Linked DNA regions of Homo sapiens. The gene in region 2 interacts genetically with the main gene of each other region. Each region holds a gene or a part of one and is shown on either strand. Other genes may lie near its edges.

Region 1 (7,785 bases), on a different chromosome or scaffold from region 2:
AAGTGAGGAGCGTCTCCGCCCGGCAGCCACCCCGTCCGGGAGGGAGGTGGGAGGGTCAGCCCCCCCGCCCGGCCAGCCGCCCCGTCCGGGGAGGTGAGGGGCGCCTCTGCCCGGCCGCCCCTACTGGGAAGTGAGGAGCCCCTCTGCCCGGCCAGCGGCCCCATCCGGGAGGGAGGTGGGGGGGGTCAGCCCCCCGCCCGGCCAGCTGCCCCGTCCGGGAGGGAGGTGGGGGGGGTCAGACCCCCGCCCGGCCAGCCACCCCGTCCGGGAGGGAGGTGGGGGAGTCAGCCCCCCGCCTGGCCAGCCACCCCGTCCGGGAGGTGAGGGGCACCTCTGCCCGGCCGCCCCTACTGGGAAGTGAGGAGCCCCTCTGCCCAGTCAGCTGCCCCGTCCGGGAAGGAGGTGGGGGGGTCAGCCCCCCGCCCAGCCAGCCACCCCGTCCAGGAGGGAGGTGGGGGGGGGGGTCAGCCCCCAGCCCGGCCAGTCGCCCCGTCCGGGAGGGAGGTGGGGGGATCAGTCCCCCGCCCGGCCAGCCGCCCCGTCCAGGAGGTGAGGGGCACCTCTGTCCGGCCGCCCCTACTGGGAAGTGAGGAGCCCCTCTGCCTGGCCACCACCCCGTCTGGGAGGTGTACCCAACAGCTCATTGAGAATGGGCCATGATGACAATGGCGGTTTTGTGGAATAGAAAGGGGGGAAAGGTGGGGAAAAGACTGAGAAATGGGATGGTTGCCGTGTCTGTGTAGAAAGAGGTAGACATGGGAGACTTTTCATTTTGTTCTGTACTAAGAAAAATTCTTATCCTGTTGATCTGTGACCCTACCCCCAACCCTGTGCTCTCTGAAACATGTGCTGTGTCCACTCGGGGTTAAATGGATTAAGGGCGGTGCAAGATGTGCTTTGTTAAACAGATGCTTGAGGGCAGCATGCTCATTAAGAGTCATCACCACTCCCTAATCTCAAGTAATCAGGGACACAAACACTGCGGAAGGCCGCAGGGTCCTCTGCCTAGGAAAACCAGAGACCTTTGTTCACTTGTTTATCTGCTGACCTTCCCTCCACTATTGTCCTATGACCCTGCCAAATCCCCCTCTGCGAGAAACACCCAAGAATGATCAATAAAAATAAATAAATAAATAAAAGGGGAAAAAAAAAAAACAATGAATCTCTCATTTCTAGTTGTAAGTAGGTTAGAAATGAGTCAGCGCTCCTCATGTCATAAAGTATAAGTTGTTTTGTTTTGTTTTGTTTTTTGGAGACGGAATCGCCCAGGCAGTGGCATGATATCGGTTCACTACAACCTCCACCTCCCGAGTTCAAGCGATTCTCCTGACTCAGCATCCCAAGTAGCTGGGACTACAGGCACACACCACCACACCAGGCTGAATTTTTGTATTTTAGTAGAGATGGGGTTTCACTGTGTTGCCCAGGCTGGTTGCGAACTCCTGAGCTCAGGCAATCCACCCACCACCCCACCTCGGCCTCCCAAAGTACTAGGATTATAGGCGTGAGCCACCACGCCTGGCATAAGTTGTTAATACATCCATTTTGCTTGAGTCTTACTCTGGCTGAAGAGTTGTGTTGTTTTGTTTTTGTTTTTGTTTTGTGACATTCAATCAAAACCTTTTTCTAACTGCTTTAGCAGAGACTAAAGATTGGAAAAATAGAATAATTTTCTGTTTTTCCAAGTGAGGGTAGTCTTTCCAAACTGTAAGTTAGCCCTTAGACTAGAAGGATAGAAGAAGCTTATTCTGCTGCTGTTCAAATATATCTTTCCAGAAAAGCAGCCTTAGTGAATTCTAACACTGTATATAATCATTGTTTAAATGATCCTTTTTAATTGAAAACAATTTTTTCACTACCACTCTCCATACTGTTTAATGTGATTTTTAATCTAATGTGTGTAGAACTAATTCTTTGTTATTGTTTTAGTTGGAGACGTTGATTTGATGAATCTATAAATCAATGTACATCAAAGTCATAATAGGACTAAAACACTATAAGAAATATAACTGAATTTCCCAGAACTTAAGATCATTTACAAAAATGTGATTACCACAGAACATGCGATGCATACATTTAAACATTAAAAATCATTTTTGACTAATAAAGTAGGCAATTTCCTGAATACTTGTCCCTCCTAGCAACAATTCCACATTATTTATAACTCTAAGTGTAGACTCTTTTTTAAAAAACATGCACTATCAGGTAGGAGAGTTAAACATCAACCCACTACTTTTATGGCAATTTGGCTTGAATTGATTCAGATTAATTTAATCACTTACCTAGCAAGGTCCTTAGGCAGTGGTCCTCAAATTTTAGACAGCAAAGAAGCACCCACAGTGCAAATTCAAATGTGGAATCCTAGGCCTTGGCCAGAAAAATAACCTGATTCTGAAGACCCAAAATAATTACTTTTAATTAGCACCTGGGATACTTTCAAAGGGAATCATGCTAAAAGATTAGCATGATCCCTAGACAAAAGATGAATCACTTTGACAGGGCTGGTAAAAGACCTGGATTTCAAGACATTTGGCAGCCTGGGTGGGACACAGAAGGCATGGCCCTGGGCAATCCAATAAAATAGCACAGAGACACATCAGAAGAGAAGTCGTATCAGTCCTAACAACAGATGACCAGCAGGCTCAATTCTCCCTCCTTGCCTTCCCATTGGAATACATATTCCAAATCAAAGTTTAAATGAGAGGCAACACTGTACCTGGCTGGAAATGAGGAATCTCTGTTGGTAGCTGAGGCTTGCTCTGACCTCTCTATCACTAGGTCAGGGGAAAGAGGGTCATTTCACTCTCTCCCATTCCCTTCAGAGAAACAGATCCTGAGTTGCCCCTCCCCTCCTGGTTTCTAGCTCCACTGGTAATTCTCTTTCAAGGCAGTTCTCTCCCAGTAGTGCAGTGTGCATGGCCAGATGTGGAAGGTAAAGCCCTGAGGTGCACTGAGTACTGTGCAGCGAGCGACAGGTAGCTGCAGGAACAGAATGAGCTCTCAGCATAGTACAGTCTCACCACTAACACCCCAAAAAACTAAAAAAAAAAAAACTATAAATTATTTCAAATCACACAAAAACACTCCCCTCATTATAGTTACAGGACCGAAAGATTCAACACTAGGAAAGGAAGACCTCTCCTAAGTATAGAAAATGATCTATCCTTCATAAATTTCGTTGTACCCATTCATCTGCTTTCCAAGCTAACATAAAGAGGAAGATTCCTCCAGCTTCCAAGTGTAGTGAGAGAGACGAAGGAACACTTGGTCACTCTGACCAGTCAACATGCCCCTCTTTTGTCAAGGTAAGTAAACCAAAAACATTAATAACAACACAAGACCTTTAAGAAGCTCTTGCATAAGAAAAGAGGGGAACTACCATAAACAGGAAGAGGGAAAGCTTGCTCCTGTAATGGACTTACACTAGGAATATGGAAATCAAACCGAGGAATTATCTACTCTATGTTCCCAATTTTAAAAAGAAAAAGAGAAAGGGAAAGACCTCTAAAAGCAAGAGATGAGGAAGGAAAAACAGCTGAGATGAAAAAGGAAACTGGATAAGAAAAAACTGGAAGGAAATTCAAACACGTAACAGTAGAGATAAAAATTCTACATTCAAGGCAACAGAGAGATGTATAGAAGCTGGAAAAAAATCACATTCGTGTTTCAGTGTATAAGCACATAAGATCCTCTCCAAACACACAAAAGAAAAAAGACCATGATGAAAATAATGCATATTGTTTGATGGAAGGACAAAGAACACAGGTCCAACCTACAAATAACTGGAATTTCTGAACTACAATCATAAGCAAATGTACAACTGAAAAACTGTTCTAAGATGGAAAAAAAAAAAGATTTAAAATATTTACCTATAAATTGAAAGAATTCACCATGTTTCTAAAAAAAACAAAGCTGCTGGAAAGAAACTTATGCCTAAACATAGCCTACAGGAATATCTTAATTTAAAGACTAGAAAGAAAAAAAGATGCAGGCAAAAAAAAAAAAAAAAAGGTTTACCTACAATTAGCAAAAATCAGGGTAGCCTCTGCCATCTTCACCCACTGCAACAAATGCCAGATGATAGAGCAATGTCTGCAATGTCTGGGGATTTGATTTACACTTCGTATCTTAGCATCTATAACAGATAGGCAAACAGTAAACATTTTTTTTTTGAGACGGAGTGTCGCTCTGTTGCCCAGGCTGGAGTGCAGCGGTGCTATCTCGGCTCACTGCAAGCTCCGCCTCCCGAGTTCACGCCATTCTCCTGCCTCAGCCTCCCGAGTAGCTAGGACTACAGGGGCCCGCCACCACGCCCAGCTAATTTTTTGTATTTTTTAGTAGAGACAGGGTTTCACCGTGTTAGCCAGGATGGTCTCGATCTCCTGACCTCGTGATCCGTCCATCTCGGCCTCTGGAAGTGCTGGGATTACAGGTGTGAGCCACCGTGCCCAGCCAGTAAACATTTTTTTTTAAGTTGTAAATGAATAAAAGAAAAATTCAGACCAGGCACCGTGGCTCACGCCTGTAATCCCAGCACTTTGGGAAGCTGAGACAGGAGAATCACCTGAGGTCAGGAGTTCAAGACCAGCCTGGCAAACATGGCAAAATCCCTTCTCTACTAAAAATACAAAAATTAGCCAGGTGCAGTGATGTGCACCTGTAGTCCCAGCTACTCCAGAGGCTGAGGCAGGAGAATCACTTAAACCCAGGAGGCGAAAGTTGCAGTGAGCTAAGATTGTGCCACTGCACTCCAGCCTGGGCGACAAAGCGAGACTCCATCTTAAAAAAAAAAAGAAAAATTCAAAAATTTGAATGGACTTATTCTATACACCTCTTCTCATTTATAGTACCTTTCTTCAACTTTCAGGCCTGTTCACTTCTTGGACCTTTCTTACACAAACTGATGTACACTTTGCAAGGCCGAGGTAGGAGGATCACTTGAGGCTAGGAATTCAAGGTTGCAGTGAGCTATGACCGTGACACTGCCCTTTAGCCTGGGAGACAGCAAGATCCTGTCTCTAAAACAAACAAACAACAACAAAAAAAACCACAGATCTATATGACATCCAATCTTTCTGATACCAGTATCATTACTTTTATCAAAAGATAATTTTTTAATAAAACTCTGCAAGCACATAAGAAAAAATGTTCCACCACTGATGACAATTTGAGCTGATCCACAGCTCAAACTCTCTTGCTGCCTTTGAACAGTGGGTAGTAGGACTAGTACAACAAACTCTAGTCAGCACATATGCCAAGTATCCAGAATTAGGAAATAAGGAGATAATGGGGTATCCTTGGCCAAAAGTATCCAAAAAATAAGAAGAGACAGAAAGGAGCAGTGGCTCATGCCTGTAATCCCAGCATTTTGGGAGGCCAAGGTGGATGGATCACCTGAGGTCAGGAGTTTGAGACCAGCCTGACCAACATGGTGAAACCCCATCTCTACTAAAAATACTAAAATTAGCTGGGCGTGGTGGCGGGCACATGTAATCCCAGCTACTTGGGAGGCTGAGGCAGGAGAATTGCATGAACCTGGGAGGCAGAGGTTGCAATGAGCTGAGATCATGCCATTGCACTCCAGCTTGGGCGACAGAGCAAGACTCCGCCTCAAAAAAAAAGACCAACACAATATCAGAAGCTACAGAATCAGTGCCAGTCTGAATACAGATTACAGAGCAAAGTGTCTTTAAAATATACTACCAAGTGCCATATTTTTATTTTGGAAAATAAAAAAAGGAAATGGTTGGACATTTTTGTAATGAAAGGCACATTCCCTTTAAATTTTTCTTCTTGCAAAAGTCTTTGTTCAGAGATGAGACTAATGTGCCTTCTATTTCCACAAGTTTTTCATTCATTCACTCAGTACCTACAATACCCTAGTGCTTGCTGTGAGTGTCCTCCTAGAAAAGAATGTCAAACTTCCTGGCAAAACTGGGGAAGACTCCAAAACTTGGAGTTCTGAACACATGAATTCAATTCTTGAAGAAATGAATTTTGAAATTTGAGTAAGGGCCAACCAGGTGGAGACAAAGTCACTCCAAAAAGATTGAGGAGCTCCTGCAAAGACAGGGTCTGAAAAGAATGCAAGGTTTAAAAATAAAACAAATGTCAGTGGATGGAGCATAGCTCGGGTGGAGAAGAGTATGGGCAAATAAGGTCTAATGGTTCCCAACTTTATGGGGAACCCGCTCTTCAAGGGGCTGCTTGGAAATAAATGGGATCATATTGGATTGTTAAAAAGAAGTTAGAGTTTGCCATTGCCATTTAGTGCTGAGGGACCAGGTAAAATAAACATCCTACAATGTACAGGACAATCCCACACAGTGAAGAGTTGTCTGTAAAAATGCCAGTAGAGCTCCCTTTGAGAAATACTGGGAAGTAGGTAAGGAATTAACAAAGTCTAGAGAATTTAACTCTAGGGCCTCAGCGTATCCTTTAAAATCTGTGATCACAATCTCCATTTCACTCACTAAATATTTACTAGGTGCTAAAAGATAAACCAAGGCACATTAAAATTTTAAAGGATTTATTTGAGGTCAGGCAAAGTAATCCTAGCACTTCGGGAGGACAAGGCAGGTGGATTGCCTGAGCTCAGGAATTCAAGACCAGCCTGGGCAAATGGTGAGATCCCGCCTCTACAAAAAAATACAAAAATTAGCCTGGCATAGTGGTGCATGCCTGTAGTCCCAGCTACTTGGGAGGCTGAGGTGGGAGGATAGCTGGAGCCCAGGAAATTGAGGCTGCAGTGAGCCATAACTGCACTACTGCCCTCCAGCCTGGGCGACACAACAAGATACTGTCTCAAAAAACAAAAACAAGAAAATGTTTATTTAAGCAGACAATGGTTAACCCATTTATGCTGGAGGTTGCAAATTTTTTTTGTGAAAAATCAGACCTTGGCGATGACCATGAGCAGGATATAAATAACTCCCACAAGCTTAGCGTTCCAATAATGGAACACTAGGCATATTAATGAATTGGTCAGCTCCAGAATGCAAGCAATATGGGGCTGCACCAAAAGGACACAGTTAGAAGGCTTTTGAAGAGTGAACGGCAGAAGCAAGGCCAAGAAAATCTGTGATTGGTCAAAGTGGAGTAGCCTTACTTGGATCATTCCAGTAAAAGTCAGTGGTTAGAGGTTAGTTGATGGTTTCTGATTGGTTAAGCTAAAGTTTCATTTTCCTAGAATACAACCATTTACACTGAGTTTGGTGTAAGTCTGTTTATGTAGGAACCCAGGGCACTGGAGCTTCCTCAGGCAATGGCCTCCCAATTAATTATTTTAACACAGGAAGCTGTTTTTGCTGGGCAATAAATATGTTTCCTTCTTTCCTTTGACCACCATGAAGCTTGGAACTTTGTGGCCTACCTTTAATAACTGTACAACAGGCCGGGCGCAGTGGCTCACGCCTGTAATCCCAGCACTTTGGGAGGCCGAGGCGGGCGGATCACGAGGTCAGGAGATCGAGACCATCTTGGCTAACACGGTGAAACCCCGTCTCTACTAAAAATACAAAAAAAAAAAAAAATTAGCCGGGCAAGGTGGCGGGCGCCTGTACTCCCAGCTACTCGGGAGGCTGAGGCAGGAGAATGGCGTGAACTCGGGGGCCGGAGCCTGCAGTGAGCCGAGATCACGCCACTGCACTCCAGCCTGGGCGACAGAGTGAGACTCCATCTCAAAAAAAAAAAAAGATAAAATAAATAAATAAATAAATAACTCTACAACATTCACAGTATATTTTCAGTATAACTCACCCTAATCACATCTTTCTATTCAAGCTT
Region 2 (3,058 bases):
TTTGAACAGTGGTTTTTGTGCATTGTTTTCTCCCTTGATTCTTGTCAACAAACGCTGAGCCTTGAAGACTTAGATTAGTAACGTTGGCCTAAACACCATTCCTGTGCTTCTTCTCCATAAATTGAAGGATTCCAAGTGCACCATTTCCTTGGTCGTTACCTTTCATCCTCCCTCCCCAGTACTTCTTATAGTTCCTGACAGCAGGCACAAATCACGACTCCAGGCCAACCAGCAATTTTCCCACCATGCTGAGCTGAGGCAGCATGGCTGGTCTAAAGAAGGGACCCAGTTTTCCAACTGCAGCACCATATGGGACACCACTCTGCAGGGAGGCACTGCCTAGAGAAAGCAGGGCACACGCCAAAGCCAAGTACAGCAGCAGCCGGTGTCACCCAGGACAATGACAACTCCCCAAACCAAGCCTGTACTGCCCCATTTACATTCTGACACTTAAACTGTTCCTGTTCAGGCTGCACAATGCAAACAAAATGGACAAAAGATTAAGGTTTTTTGGCTGTAAGTTTATTCAATGCAAAAGAATCCTCTCCAATTTTACTGAGGTGGCTGACCACGTCCACGACCAAATCCGCCTCTCTGTAAGAGAAAGCACATCACATCAGCATGAGCGGCACTCTGGTTTGATCTTTGGAGGTTTTGCTAACTTTCAGGCCTCATTATAACTCCAGAGGCCCCCAAATGTAAACAGCTGGGAGAGAGCTGAGTACAGGCTATAAATCCCAGCACTGCCCCTTACTGGATGTGGGGCCATATCTAACATCTAGGCCCATTTCTTCATTGGTAAAGTGGGAGTATGGCCACCCACCCAGAGTGTGTTCATACATACTCCTATGAAAGCATCCAGCACCAGGATTGGACCGTTTCTACTGTACATGCTTCCTTTTTACAAATGACATTATCTGAGAGCAATCGTGTGCTATGAGGACCTGCCATAGGACAAAAATGATATGCCAGTACTATGCCTGGATTAACTAATCTCACAACTACCTTAGTAGCTGTAATTATCACCTTATTTTATAGATGGAGAAACTGAGGCAGAGGGGAACCTACCTAACATTACATCAACTGAAAAAAGATGGAGGATTTGATTTCATACCATCTTGGTTCTTAAGCCCACCCACCTTCCAGTGTTTAGTTCAATGTCAAGCATTAATGAAACAGAAAATACTAGTAGGCCACATGTACTGATTTCTGAGACTCATTTCAGTAATTTATGTATTTACAAAAGTTTGCATGCTACAACTCAATGTAAAATTTGGAATTTGGAAAAAAGTGGGAGGAGGGAACTGGTTGACAGGACCCACCCATACTATATGACATCCCCACAACTTGCAGAGCAACCAGACTGAGGCCAGAACAAGTGATGGCTCATGGAAAACAAATAGGAAGATACTCACAAACTGGAATTCGGTTGCTGACCCAGCCCCAGCCTCGGCTTTCTTGTCGGCACCAGCTAGAAAGTGAAACATCGATTTAGAATCATCATATGATCTAATCTACTATAGAACAAGGGAAGACAACTCACTGACTCCAATCTTGCAGGAAAAGCCAAGTACCACTCCGTTAAATATAAGCAAATTACACCAGTGGTGGGGAATACCTTCTGAGCCACCTTTGTCTCTCCTGGGGCACCCTTCTCAGCCTTCCTTATGTCACCCTTCAATACTCACAGCCCAAACTATAAATCCTCCCAAAGGATTCCTACTTCCTATCACACTGACTGACTTACCCACTTCACAGCAGCATCTAGATAACAAAGGGAGTGTAATTATGGAAGAACTAACATGTAAAGGGAAGGGCCCACAAAAGCCTTAATTACCACCATGGGAGAAAAGCAGACAAGATGCTGCCCGGTCCTATATCCCAGTCACAGTTCAAATGGAGACGTGTGCAAAATTCACCAGTTTTCTTTTACTTATTTGAGACAGGGTCTTACTCTGTCACCCAGGATGGAGTGCAGTGGTACGATCTCAGCTCACTACAACCTCTGCCTCATGGGCTCAAGCGATCCTCCCACCTCAGGTGGGACTACAGGCAGCTAATTTTTATATTTTTTGTTCGTTTGAGACTGAATTTCGCTCTTGTTGCCCAGGCTAGAGTGCAATGGCGCGATCTCGGCTCACTGCAACCTCCGCCTCCCAGGTTCAAGCGATTCTCCTGCCTCAGCCTCCCGAGTAGCTGGGATTACAGGCATGCGCCACCATGCATGGCTAATTTTTTTGTATTTTTAGTAGAGATGGGGTTTCTTCATGTTGGTTTCTCCAGGCTGGTCTCAAACTCCCAACCTCAAGTGATCCGCCCACCTCGGCCTCCTGAAGTGTTGGGATTACAGGCATGAGCCACCGCACCCAGCCCTAATTTTTATATTTTTTGTAGAGATGGGGTTCTGCCATGTTGCCCGGGCTGGTCTAGAACTCCTGAGCTCAAGTGATCTGCCTGCCTCAGCCTCCCTAAGTGCTGGAATTACGGGTGTGAGCCACTGCACCCAGCCAATTACAAAGACTTAAGAAAAAAAGAATGTAAAATATTTCACTACTCTTTATACTGATTACATGTTAAATTAACACGTTTAGATATTTTTTAAACCGATTTATTTGTATTTATTTACTTATTTTTTTTTTTTGAGACGAAGTCTCACTCTTGTCCCTGAGGCTGGAGTGCAATGATGCAATCTCAGCTCACTGCAACCTTCACCTCCTGGGTTCAAGCGATTCTCCTGCCTCATGCTCCGAGTAGCTGGGACTACATGTGCATACCACCACGCTTGGCTAATTTTTTGTATTTTAAGTAGAGACGGGGTTTCACCATGTTGTCCAGGCTGGTCTCAAACTCCTGACCTCAGGTGATCTGCCCGCCTCGGCCTCCCAAAGTGCTGGGATTACAGGAGTGGGCCACCGCGCCCGGCCCTGATTTATTTGAGTTGGTGCGGGGGGCAGGGTCTCACTCTGTTGCCCAGGCTGGAATGTAGCAACAAGATCATAGCTCACTGTATCTCAAACTCCTGGGCTCAAAACAATCCTCTTGCCTTGGCCTTCCAAGT
Region 3 (7,785 bases), on a different chromosome or scaffold from region 2:
TTAGGTTTATCTGCATGGTATTGGAATAACTCACAGGGATATTAAACCAGAAAATCTTCTGTTGGATGAAAGGGGTAAGTTTAGCATTTTATCACTACCTAAAATAAAATAAAATAATTACCTAAATTATTTTAATTACCTAATTATTTTAATATAGCCATACAAGGCAAAATCAAGTCTTTTTGCATTACTGGAATTTCAAGACAAGATCTGAAAAATCAAGGAAATTTTGGAGACTTCGTATATTTGGAAATCACAAGTCTCATTTTGCAATACAAGTGCGGATCAGGTAGAGAAATCTGACCTAGGTGCAAGCCTAGCTCACTATATGTATAAGAATAATTTTTTTTTTTTTGATACAGGCTCACTGTGTTGTCCAGTCTGGGGTGCACTGTATTATCACAGTTCACTGCAGCCTTGACCTCCTAGGCTCAAGCAATCCTACCATCTCAGCTTCCCGAGTAGCTAGGACCAACCACAGGCAGGTGCCACCATGCCTGGCTAATTTTTGATTTTTTGAAGAGGTGGAGTCTTCCTGTGTTGCTCAGGCTAGTCTTGAACTCCTGGACTCAAGCAGTTTACCAGCCTTAGCCTCCCAGAGTGTTGGGATTATAGACGTGAGCCACCATGCCTGGCCAAGAATAGTTTAAAATAATCCTTTAATGGATTAATAAAGGGAAGTTCCTGTGGAATACCCTGGACCTTAGTCTTGTCCTGTTCACTCTTTTTTTATGTATGACGTGGATAAAAATGTAAGAAATTTAGTTATATTTTCTGAATGTCATCAAATTGAGAAGGATGGATAGCGAAAGCTTTAAGCTTACAGGGTCAGAATCAAAAAAGAAATGTCAGCTGTATGAGGCAGTAGTTTTTGTCTGGTTTAATGCTTTATTCTTAGTATTAGAATAGTGCTTAACAAATGGTCAGCTTTTTTTTTTTTTTGAAACAGAGTCTTGCTGTGTTGCCCAGGCTGGAGTGTAGTGACATGATCTCGGCTCACTGTAACCTCTACCTCTCTGGTTCAGGTGATTCTTGTGCCTTAGGCCCCTGAGTAGCTGGGATTACAAGCCTGAGTCACCACACCTGGCTCATTTTTATATTTTTAGTAGAGATGGGGTTTTGTCATATTGGCCAGGCTGGTCTCGAGCTCCTGGCCTCAAGTGATCTGCCTCCCTTGGCCTCCCAGAGTGCTGGGATTATAGGTGTGAGCCGCTGTACCCAGCCTATACATGCTTTTTTCTTATGTGCATATGGATTTTACTTTTTACCCCTTTAAACTGAGTTTATATGACATAAAAATCTTTATTTTTATTTAAAACTTTAAAAATTCAGGTACACAAAAATTCTTATGTATTATAATGAAATGTAAATATATGTATATCAACCCACCTGGTTTAAAAATACAACATTATTCGTATATAAGAATGCTCACAGTGGTGATGTTTTTAATATAGCAGGAAACTAACCCAAATGTCTGTCAACAATAAATTATGAAATGCATGGCTTTTCAAGCCATGTCACAAGCAGTGACACAAGCATGTCACAAGCAGTGACATGGATGAATTTCAGGTATATAATGATGTAGAGCAAAAAGAGACAGTTGCAAAAGAATTCATATGGTCTGATTCTGTTTATACAAAGTTCAAAAATATGTAAAACCTAGTATATTGTTCAAGTATGTAAACATGGAGAAAAAAACATGCAGAAAAGCAAGGGTATAATAAAACCAAATTCAGAATGGTCTAAGAAAGTAGGGGAGGGAATGTATTTAAGGAAGTATTTAAAGATTTCAAAGGAAATAGAGCATTGTTTTTCTAAAGTGAGTGGGTGTTTATTACATTGTTATTCTTTATATCTTGTATTAATATACAAGATATAATTCTTTGTTTCTATTTAATATTTAGGAGTCTTTTAAAAAAAGAAATAAAATGTTACCAGTATTTAATGTCCTCCTGTTTATTTCATCACAAATATATTCTTCCTTTGTTTTTCTAAGAGCTAAACACATTCCTACATTTAAATTTTATTATGTGCAGTTCTCTAACATAGCTGAGTATTATGTTGCAGACATAACAAAGTCCAAGGAATACTATAGTTATCCATTAGTATTTTAAGTGATTACTACTCATAAGTAATTTGAAACTCAATCTCAGTGGTTTGTCCAATAGTGTCATATTTAACTACTGAAAAGATAATCAACTGGGTGCAGTAGCTCATGCCTGTAATCCCAGAGGCTGAGGTGGGACGATTGAGTGATTCTAGGAGTTTGAGACCAGCCTAGACAACATAGACCCTGTCTTTATGAAAAATTAAAAAAAAAAATTAGCTAGACATGGTGGTGCACACCTGGAGTCCCAGCTACTTGGAAGGCTGAAGCAGGAGGATTGATCACTTCAGCCTAGGAGGTCAAGGCTGCAGTAAGCTGTGATCACATCACTACACTCTAGTCTGGGCAGCAGAGTGAGACACTTTCTCAAAAAAAAAAAAAAAAAAAAAAAAAAAGGGTAATCACAGTAGCTACCTCCTAAGTCAGATAGAGGTAAACATTTCATTGGTTTACATATTGTGTGAATGTACTTGATTTTTAAAGAAATCAGTCCCCTATTTTGAGACATTTAAGTTGTTTCTAACTTATAAAATAGGACAGTGATGGCTTCTATCAATTTGTGTAAAAGGCCAATATAAAAATTGCGTCATGCTATAATATTTTTTATGCTATAATATTTTTTATGCCATTAGCCTTTTTGTCCCACTTACACACTATTTCATGTTAGTATGTATAGATATACCTTGTTGATTGTTTTCAAAACCTACCTCCACATTTTCCATTGTACAAATTTGGACATTTATTTACAAATAATATTGCTATGAATATTCTTATGTTTATGAATTTGTGGGATTATTTCTATGGATATAGAAGTGGGAATTGCTAGTTCAAAGAGTGAATGTTTCACAGTTTAGTATGTTTTGCCAAATTGCCCTCTGATAATAGAGGGCCTTTTCTAACTCTTAAGACTGGGTTACATTCCTTTGCTCTAAGATCCTATAGTGCTCTATATTTTTATAACCTTCATAACAGTTTTCTATTGTCAGTCTTCACTAATTTATCTATTACCTGCATTGGCTGGCATAGTGTCTGTCACTAAGTTACAGTAGATATTCACTAAACATAAGTTAAGTCCTGCCTGCAGTTTTTGTGTGTTGAAGATGGGAAGTTAGGGTGGAAGTTGGGTCTTCTGATATTTTTTTTTTGTACAGAGTTTGTCCTCTTTTTCTCAGACTCTCTACTTTGAAGAAAAAAATTACTGTGGTTTGTTGAATTTTGGTGTGTCTTCACATATTTTCTTCTGCCAACTGGGTTTGTTTGCTGCTGAGAAAGTTGTGCCTAACATACTACTGATGTTTCCTTCCTGCCCTCCACCCTACCTGATGAGGGGCCTTGCTTTACTTTCATCTCAGGTTTAGAGTGCTCTTTTCCAGAAGGGCAGCCCCTTCTGACTCCAGCCTCTTTCTTTAATCTGGTCCAGACTGTTCTGTGTGTTGATAATACTTCTTTTAAGTTAATAGAAGAGGTGAGGCCTTTTTCTACTTTTAGCATAGATGATGATTTATTTTATTTTTTTAAATTTCTTTTTGTCTATTTTGCTTATTTTAAGAGAAGTTCTACAAACCTTAAGTAACACCAGTGATTTTTTTTCAGTAAAACTTAATTCCTGTAAGTATATCTATTTGCAAAACATTTTTATTCAGTGTCATCTTTTTTTCTTTTGGTTTAGATAACCTCAAAATCTCAGACTTTGGCTTGGCAACAGTATTTCGGTATAATAATCGTGAGCGTTTGTTGAACAAGATGTGTGGTACTTTACCATATGTTGCTCCAGAACTTCTGAAGAGAAGAGAATTTCATGCAGAACCAGTTGATGTTTGGTCCTGTGGAATAGTACTTACTGCAATGCTCGCTGGAGGTAAGAGCTATTTAATCATGGTAAAACTCCTATAAAAAGTCAGATTAGTTATACTGAAATAAATGAAATAAACCAAGGAATTCATGTTTATATAATAGTTTTTGTTTTCTTTTTTAAGAGACAGGGTCTCACTCTTGGCCAGACTGGAGTACAGTGAGCTGTTATAGCTCACTGCAGCCTCAAACTTCTAGGCTCAAGCAATCCTCTGGCCTCACTCTTCCAAGTAGCTAGGACCAGTGGTGCCTGCCACAAGACATCTGGCTAAGTTTTAAAAATTCATTGTAGAGATGGGATCTTGCTGTGTTGTCCAGGCTGGTCTTAAACACCTGGTCTCAAGCAAGCCTTCTGTCTTGGTCTCCAAACTGTTAGGATTAAAGTAAAGACATGAGCCATGGTACCCAGCTTTTATAGTAGTATTTTAATAGTGTCTTGATCGGTTTGGTAACTGCTGTAACAAAGTATCATAGACTGCATAGCTTATAAACAGCAAATTTATTTCTCACAGTTCTGGAGGCTGAAAATATGAGATTAGGGGTGCCAACCTGGTCATGTTTTAGTGAGGGCCCTCTTCCTGATTTGCAGATGGCTGTCTTGCTGTGCTCTCTCATGGTGGACAGCCAAGAGAGCAGAAGCAAGCTCTATTGTGGTTTTTTTTTTTTTTTTTAGACCAGAGTCTTGCTCTGTCACCCACGCTGGAGTACAGTGATGTGATCTCAGCTCACTGCAACCTCTGCCTCCCAGGTTCTAGCAATTCTGTCCCAGGCTCCCAAGTAGCTGGGATTACAGGCATGCATCATCACACCCGGCTAATTTTTGTATTTTGAGTAGAGACAGGGTTTCACCATGTTGGCCAGACTGGTCTCAAACTCCTGACCTCAAGTGATCCCCCAACCTCAGCCTCCCAAAGTGCTGTTTTTTGGGTTTTTTGTTAAATGACCAGATGTTGTGAGATATTGTGTCTGTTTTTTGTTTTTTTGTGGTTTTTTTTGAGACAGGGTCTCACTCTATTGCCCAGGCTGGAGTGCAGTGGCACAATTCAAGGCTCACTGCAGCCTTGAGCTCCCAGGCTCAAGCGATCCTCCTGCCTCAGTCTCCTCAGTATCTGGGTCTACAGGCGTGCACCACCACACCTGGCTAATTTGTTGTGGGTTTTTTTTCACAGACGGTCTCTCCATGTTACGTAGGCTGGTCTTAAACTCCTGGGCTCAAGTAATCTGCCTACCTAAGCCTCCCAAAGTGCTGGGATTATATAATTAGTGCCCTATAAAGATACAATATTGTCCGGGCACACAAGCCCTTATTAGACATTAATAAGCTCTTAATAAGAGCACTAATACCATTTTTTGAGTGGTCCCATCACCAGGACCTAATTACGTCTCAAAGGCCCCACCTCCGAATGCCATTGCATTATGAGTTAGGATATCAACATGACTTTTGAGGGGGATACAAATATTTAGCACATTGCAAATAGTAACTTATTTATAATCCCAAAGATTTTTTAAGCTAAGGCATGCATAGTTATTAAATATCACAACACTTATCTCTCCTGTGTATCATGTAAACATTTGTGAAAACAAGACTAGGGCAAGAAATGATTCATCTGTTTTTTGGTTTTTTTTTTTTTGAGACAAAGTCTTGCTCTGTCGCCCAGGCTGCAGTGCAGCAGTGTGATCTTGGCTCACTGCAGTCTTGACCTCTTGGGTTCAAGTGATCCTCTCACTTTAGCCTCCTGAGGAGCCAGGACTACAGATGCACACCATCACGCCCAGCTAATTTTATTTATTTTTTGTAGAGATGGGGTCTCACTATGTTGCCCAGGCTGGTCTTGAACTCCTGGGCTCAAGCAGTCCTTCTGCCTCAGCCTCCCAAAGTGCTGTGATTACAGGCCTGAGCTGCCATGCCTATCCTGATTCATCTATCTTTGAAGTGCCTCTAAAGTTTCCAAGTTGGGATTCTTAGTGTGAAAACCATATTGAATTAATTCAAAGGAAACTTTTCATGGATTTATATTATTATTTTTCCTTGAAATCTTTATAATAAGAACATTTAAAAAAACTGGGACTTGCTTTGTTTTTAGAATTGCCATGGGACCAACCCAGTGACAGCTGTCAGGAGTATTCTGACTGGAAAGAAAAAAAAACATACCTCAACCCTTGGAAAAAAATCGATTCTGCTCCTCTAGGTAACTGAATTATCTTGAGTGAAAGAGTACCGATTTCTTGGATATGAAGTCTTGTGCTATTTGAATTTTTTCTTACTTTTTTTTTTGTTTTAAACTTACAAATAATTCATGTTCGTTGTAGATAAAATAGTAACTATAAGTAAAAAATTAAGGAAAAAATAACTCTTTAGTCCCAGAACTCTGCAATAGATTTTTAAAAATATTTTGGGGAGTGTATATTCAGAGCAACTTGAATCTGCTCTTAGATGGCTTTTTACTTAAAGTTTTCATATGTGCTATACTTTGTTGCAAATACACTCGTTTGTTGCTTAATTATAGGGATGCACTCTAACAAATGTTTCATTAGGTGGTTTCATCATTGTGTGAACATCATAGAGTATATTTACATAAATCTAGATAGTATAGCTTACTATAAATCTAGGCTATTTGGTATACCCTATTGATCTCAGGCTGCAAACCTGTACAGCATGTTACTATACTGAGCACTGTAAGGAATTGTAACATAATGGTATTTGTGTATCTAAGTATAGAAAAAGTATAGTAAAAATACAGTATTATAATCTAATGGGACTGTCTGTTATACGTGTGGTCCATTCCTGACTGAAACATCATTAATGTGGCCCATAAGTATGTAAAATGAATATATGTATATTATTTATATGTGTTTTTATACAAAATGAGATCACACTAATAATATTTTGTAACTGTTTTTGGTTTTAGTGCGCAGCGAACATTCTTCCATGACTATAATTGTAGGTCTACATCGTTGGTTTAAAGGCTGTGATAATATTCTGCCATGTGGATATGCCTTACTTTACTCTTTTAATCACTTTGTTGGAGATTTTTCTAAATTTTCACAGATACAAAAGAGATATAAGTATCTGTGTAACTTAATCATGACACATACCCTTAAATTGTTCATTGAAATCCCCAGAAGCAAAATTGCAGGATCAAGGATGTAGTTTTTATTATTATGGCTTATTTTGTCAAATTGCTTCCCGAAAGTTCGAACCATTTCATCACAGTCTCATCAATTTACATTAAGGAAAAAAACTTTAAATAATAGTTTTTCATTTTTATTTTAAATTTAATACTAATGAAGTTGTATACCCTTTATGTATGTATTAGTTTTTTGTCTATTTTGCTCATTTTTGTCAAGGATATTGTTTTTCTTACCACTTTGAAGCTTTTTTTTTTCCTTGATAACACATTGACCTTTGCACTTGTTACAAATACTTTTCACAATTTATCATTTATTTTCATTTTGTTTTGCTATATTGACATTCAAATCTATTATCTTGTCCTTTGTGGTCCCTGACTATAATTTCTTTGGAAAGGTCTTCTACCTCTACTATTTAAAAGTTCCCTATGTTTTCATTTAGTGTTTTTATGGCTTCATTTTTCCATTTAAATCTTTGGTCCATTAGGAAATAATCTTCACATAGGAAGATACGTGAATTTTTTCTCAAGAAAATTAAGATACCTTAGGATGGTTAGTTAGATTACTGTCTCTTAAAAAGTTATTGGTAAGTAAATGTTCATTATAAAACTGTGTGAATAAGGAGGTCACGTGAGAACATGACATTGAAGTAATGAAATTCGGTATTGAAAATGGATAAGAGGGGTTTCTGTATCTTT
Region 4 (3,500 bases), on a different chromosome or scaffold from region 2:
TTTTAGCTTGATGAAATCCCAGTTGTCTGTTTTTGCTTTAGTTGCCTGTGCTTTTGAGGTCTTACGTAAAAACCCTGTGCCCAAAAAACCTGTGCCCAAGATGAGTGTCCTGGAGCACTTCCCCAGTGTTTTCTTCTAGTAGTTTTATAGGTTTTGGGACTGGATTTCTGTCTACAGTCCTGGAGTTTTGCTGCCCTCACTTTGGTTTTTCACTCACTTCTCTGCATGGCTTTCCAATAGCAATAGCTCCCAGATAGCAAGCATGGGTGGGTGGGGGGAGTATTACATGCGTCACTTCACTTAATCCTCATGGTCTGTCTACTTATTTTCAGATGAGAAAACAGGTTTAGAGAAGTTGTGATCTACCTAAAGTCATGCACAGTTTCACTCAAGTGTCTGACTCCAGATCCGCTTGCCTCTAATCTCTCATAGTAACTTGTTGACACATTTTCTCCAGTTGTCCTGTCTTGCTTAAAAAGCTGTGGGGAAGACTCAGCCTGGCTCAGGTAGTATTAGACCAGCAGTCCCTGGTGTGGCATACTCAGTTTTGGCATTGCCTTCCTGGTATGTTTTAAAGAAAACTCATCAGAACCTTTGTATCTTTTTTATTTTCCTTGAGACAGGGTCTCGCTCTGTCACCCAGGCTGGAGTGCAGGCTCGATCACGGCTCACTGCAGCCTCAACCTCCTGGACTCAAGTGATCCTCCCACCTCAGCTTCCCAAGTAGCTGGGACTACAGGTGCACACCACCATGCCCTGCTAATTTTTTGTATTTTCTGTAGATACTGGATTTCACCATGGTGCCCAGGCTGGTCTTGAATTCCTGGGCTCAAGCAATCTACCTGCGTTGGCCTCCCAAAGTGCTGGGATTACAGACATGAACCACCACACCTGGCAGAACCTTTGTATCTTGAAAGCTGTGTAAATACAATCAGTGTGGGTATCTTAGTCCCTCCTTATCAGCGGTAGTAGTTTCACTTACCAATGGTCAGCTGCGATCTGAAACTATTAAGTGGAAAATTCATAAGAAATAGTCAATTCATGGCTGGGCATGGTGGCTCAGGCCTGTAATCCTAGCAGTTTGGGAGGCTGAGGTGGACCTGAGGATCACCTGAGGTCTGCAGTTTGAGACCAGGCTGGCCAATACGGTGAAAACCCTGTCTCTACTAAAAAAAATATACAAATTAGCCGGGCATGGTGGTGTGCGCCTGTAATCCCAACTACTTGGAAGGCTGAAGCAGGAGAATTGCTTGAACCCAGGAGGTGGAGGTTGCAATGAGCCAAAATTGTGCCACTGCACTCCAGCCTGGGTGACTGAGACTCCGTTTCAAAAAAAAAAAAAAAAAGAAATAATCAGTTCATAAGTCTTAAATTACATGGTTTTGCAGTGCTTGTGTTCATGTCACCCTTATATTTAATAATGGCCCCAAAGCAAAAGATGCTGGCAATTTGGATATTGTAAAGAGAAGCTGTAAAGTGTTTCCTTTTACTGAAAAGGTGAAAGATCTCAATTTAATATGGAAATAAAAAAATTTGTATGCTGAGGCTGCTAACGTCTATGGTAAGAACTAATCTTCTATTTGTGAAATTGTGAAGAAGGAAAAAGAAAGTTGTGCATAATTTATATAGGGTTCTGTACTATGCGAGGTTTCAGGCATCCACTGGGGGGTCTTGGATCTTATCCCCCTCTGATGGTGGGGACTACTATAGTGTTGTTTCCTATGTTCTCCTAGAGTAGTAGCCTGAGTTTGGGGAGGAAGAGAATGCCCTCCTCTCCCTCCCTTTTTTTTGTTAATCCGATTAGGTCAGCAGTGGATGTTACTTTGATTTTACTGGTGGTTCTGTTATCAGAGTCTTGGTTTGTTTTCTGTTCTTTGGAGATAGGGTCTCACTCTGCCACCCAGGCTGGTATGTAAGTGGTATGATCATAGCTCACTGCAGCCTTCAACTCCTGGGCTCAAGTGATCCTCCCACCTCACCTTCCTGAGTAGCTGAGCCCACAGCTGCATGCCATCATGTCTAATTTTCTTATTTTTTGTACGGGGGGCGGGGGGGGTCCCACTATGTTGGCCAGGCTGGTATTGAACTCGTGGCCTCAAGTGGTCCTCTTGCCTTGGCCTCCCAAAGTGCTGGGATTACAGGTATGAGCCACTGCACCCAGCCTGTTATGACAGTCTAACTGTCTATCAGGTTAATTCTAAGACAAGGGTGGAAGCCTCTGTTACGGTCTCCAGTTTATAAAAGAATGGTTCCTGCAAGATTACATCAAGGCCGGAAGGCCATTTAGGATGCTGAAAAGATAAGCCCTATGGTTATTTAGCATCACAAAGGGATAGGTGGAGTTGTTAAGAGCTGTCTTCCTTTGTGTTCTGCCTCATTAAGTCACTGGGTCCTTAGGTGTCAGGGAATATAGATTGAACGAACAGGTGTGTTTCACTTTAGGAGCAAGCCTGGGGGAAAAGGGGTACCAGTGACATTTTATGTAAATGGACCCTTTGGAGTAATGCAGCAGGTTATTGTACAATTTCTTTTTGACTTTTATATCAAGCCACCTGATTTTTTGTCTTCTTTTGCTTTCCAAAGTACACAGATGCTCCTCAACTTTCAATGGCATTATGTCTAAATAAAACCATTCTAAGTTGAAAATATTGTTAAATTGAAATTACATTTAATACACCTAAGATACCAAACGTCATAGTTTAGCCTAGCCTCCTTTAAACATGCTCAGAACACTTATGTCAGGGTACAGTTGGGCAAAATTATCTAACACAAAGATTATTGTTATTATTTTTTGTAGAGGTGGGGTCTCAAACACCTGCCCTCAAGCAATCCTCCTACCTCCACCACCCGAAATATTGGGTTTACAGTTGTGAGTCACTGCACCTGGCCTATTTTATTTTATTTTAAAATTTTATTTATTTAATTAATTAATTTTTTTGAGACAGGGTTTCACTCCTGTCACCCAGGCTGGAGTGCAGTGGCGCGATCTCAGCTCAGTGCAACCTCTGCCTCCTGGGCTCGAGCAATTCTCCTGCTTCAGCCTCCTGAGTAGCTGGAACTACAGGCGCCTGCCACCACACCCGGCTAATTTTTGTATTTTTAGTGGACACGGGGTTTGACTGTGTTGGCCAGGCTGGTCTTGAACTCCTGATCTCAGGTGATCTACCTGCCTTGACCCCCCAGAGTTCTGGGATTATAGGTGTGAGCCACTGCACCTGGCCACCTGGCCTATTTTATAATAAGGTGTTAAATATCTCATGTAATTACTTGAATACTGTACTGAAGGTGAAAACCAGAATGGTTATGTGAGGACTTGGAGAAGTAAGTGTCTACTGATTGCTTTCACAGAAAGTCTAAACATTGTTAAATAGAAGCATTGTTAAATTGAGGACTGTATATATGAGTTTTTTTTTTTGAAACGGAGTCTTGCACTGTTGCCCAGGCTGGAGTGCAGTGGTGCAATCTTGGTTCACTGCAACCTCTGCCTCCCGGGCTCAAGC

What was found.
Region 1: of RPS10 (region 2) and ATG10, changing one suppresses a phenotype caused by changing the other (phenotypic suppression), as found in Homo sapiens cells (one large-scale study listed by BioGRID).
Region 3: changes in RPS10 (region 2) and CHEK1 are lethal when combined (synthetic lethality), as found in Homo sapiens cells (one large-scale study listed by BioGRID).
Region 4: changes in RPS10 (region 2) and CHEK2 are lethal when combined (synthetic lethality), as found in Homo sapiens cells (one large-scale study listed by BioGRID).

The regions. Positions count from the first base shown.
Region 1 is NC_000005.10:81,975,915-81,983,699, reverse strand, and holds part of ATG10 (ubiquitin-like-conjugating enzyme ATG10), read right to left. Parts: intron 7,508-7,785; exon of another isoform or gene 7,373-7,507; intron 5,372-7,372; exon of another isoform or gene 4,851-5,371; intron 4,201-4,850; exon of another isoform or gene 4,022-4,200; intron 2,793-4,021; exon of another isoform or gene 2,283-2,792; intron 1-2,282. UniProt on the Homo sapiens protein: E2-like enzyme involved in autophagy. Acts as an E2-like enzyme that catalyzes the conjugation of ATG12 to ATG5. ATG12 conjugation to ATG5 is required for autophagy. Likely serves as an ATG5-recognition molecule. Not involved in ATG12 conjugation to ATG3.
Region 2 is NC_000006.12:34,416,954-34,420,011, forward strand, and holds the end of RPS10 (small ribosomal subunit protein eS10), read right to left. Parts: intron 1,472-3,058; coding exon 1,416-1,471; intron 595-1,415; coding exon 553-594; 3' UTR 501-552; downstream 1-500. Other genes in the region: RPS10-NUDT3 protein, read right to left, coding at 1,416-1,471. UniProt on the Homo sapiens protein: Component of the 40S ribosomal subunit. The ribosome is a large ribonucleoprotein complex responsible for the synthesis of proteins in the cell.
Region 3 is NC_000011.10:125,629,387-125,637,171, forward strand, and holds part of CHEK1 (serine/threonine-protein kinase Chk1), read left to right. Parts: intron 1-4; coding exon 5-74; intron 75-3,776; coding exon 3,777-3,965; intron 3,966-6,042; coding exon 6,043-6,147; intron 6,148-7,785. UniProt on the Homo sapiens protein: Serine/threonine-protein kinase which is required for checkpoint-mediated cell cycle arrest and activation of DNA repair in response to the presence of DNA damage or unreplicated DNA.
Region 4 is NC_000022.11:28,735,321-28,738,820, reverse strand, and holds part of CHEK2 (serine/threonine-protein kinase Chk2), read left to right. Parts: exon of another isoform or gene 1-1,537; coding exon of another isoform or gene 1,538-1,561; intron 1,562-3,500. UniProt on the Homo sapiens protein: Serine/threonine-protein kinase which is required for checkpoint-mediated cell cycle arrest, activation of DNA repair and apoptosis in response to the presence of DNA double-strand breaks.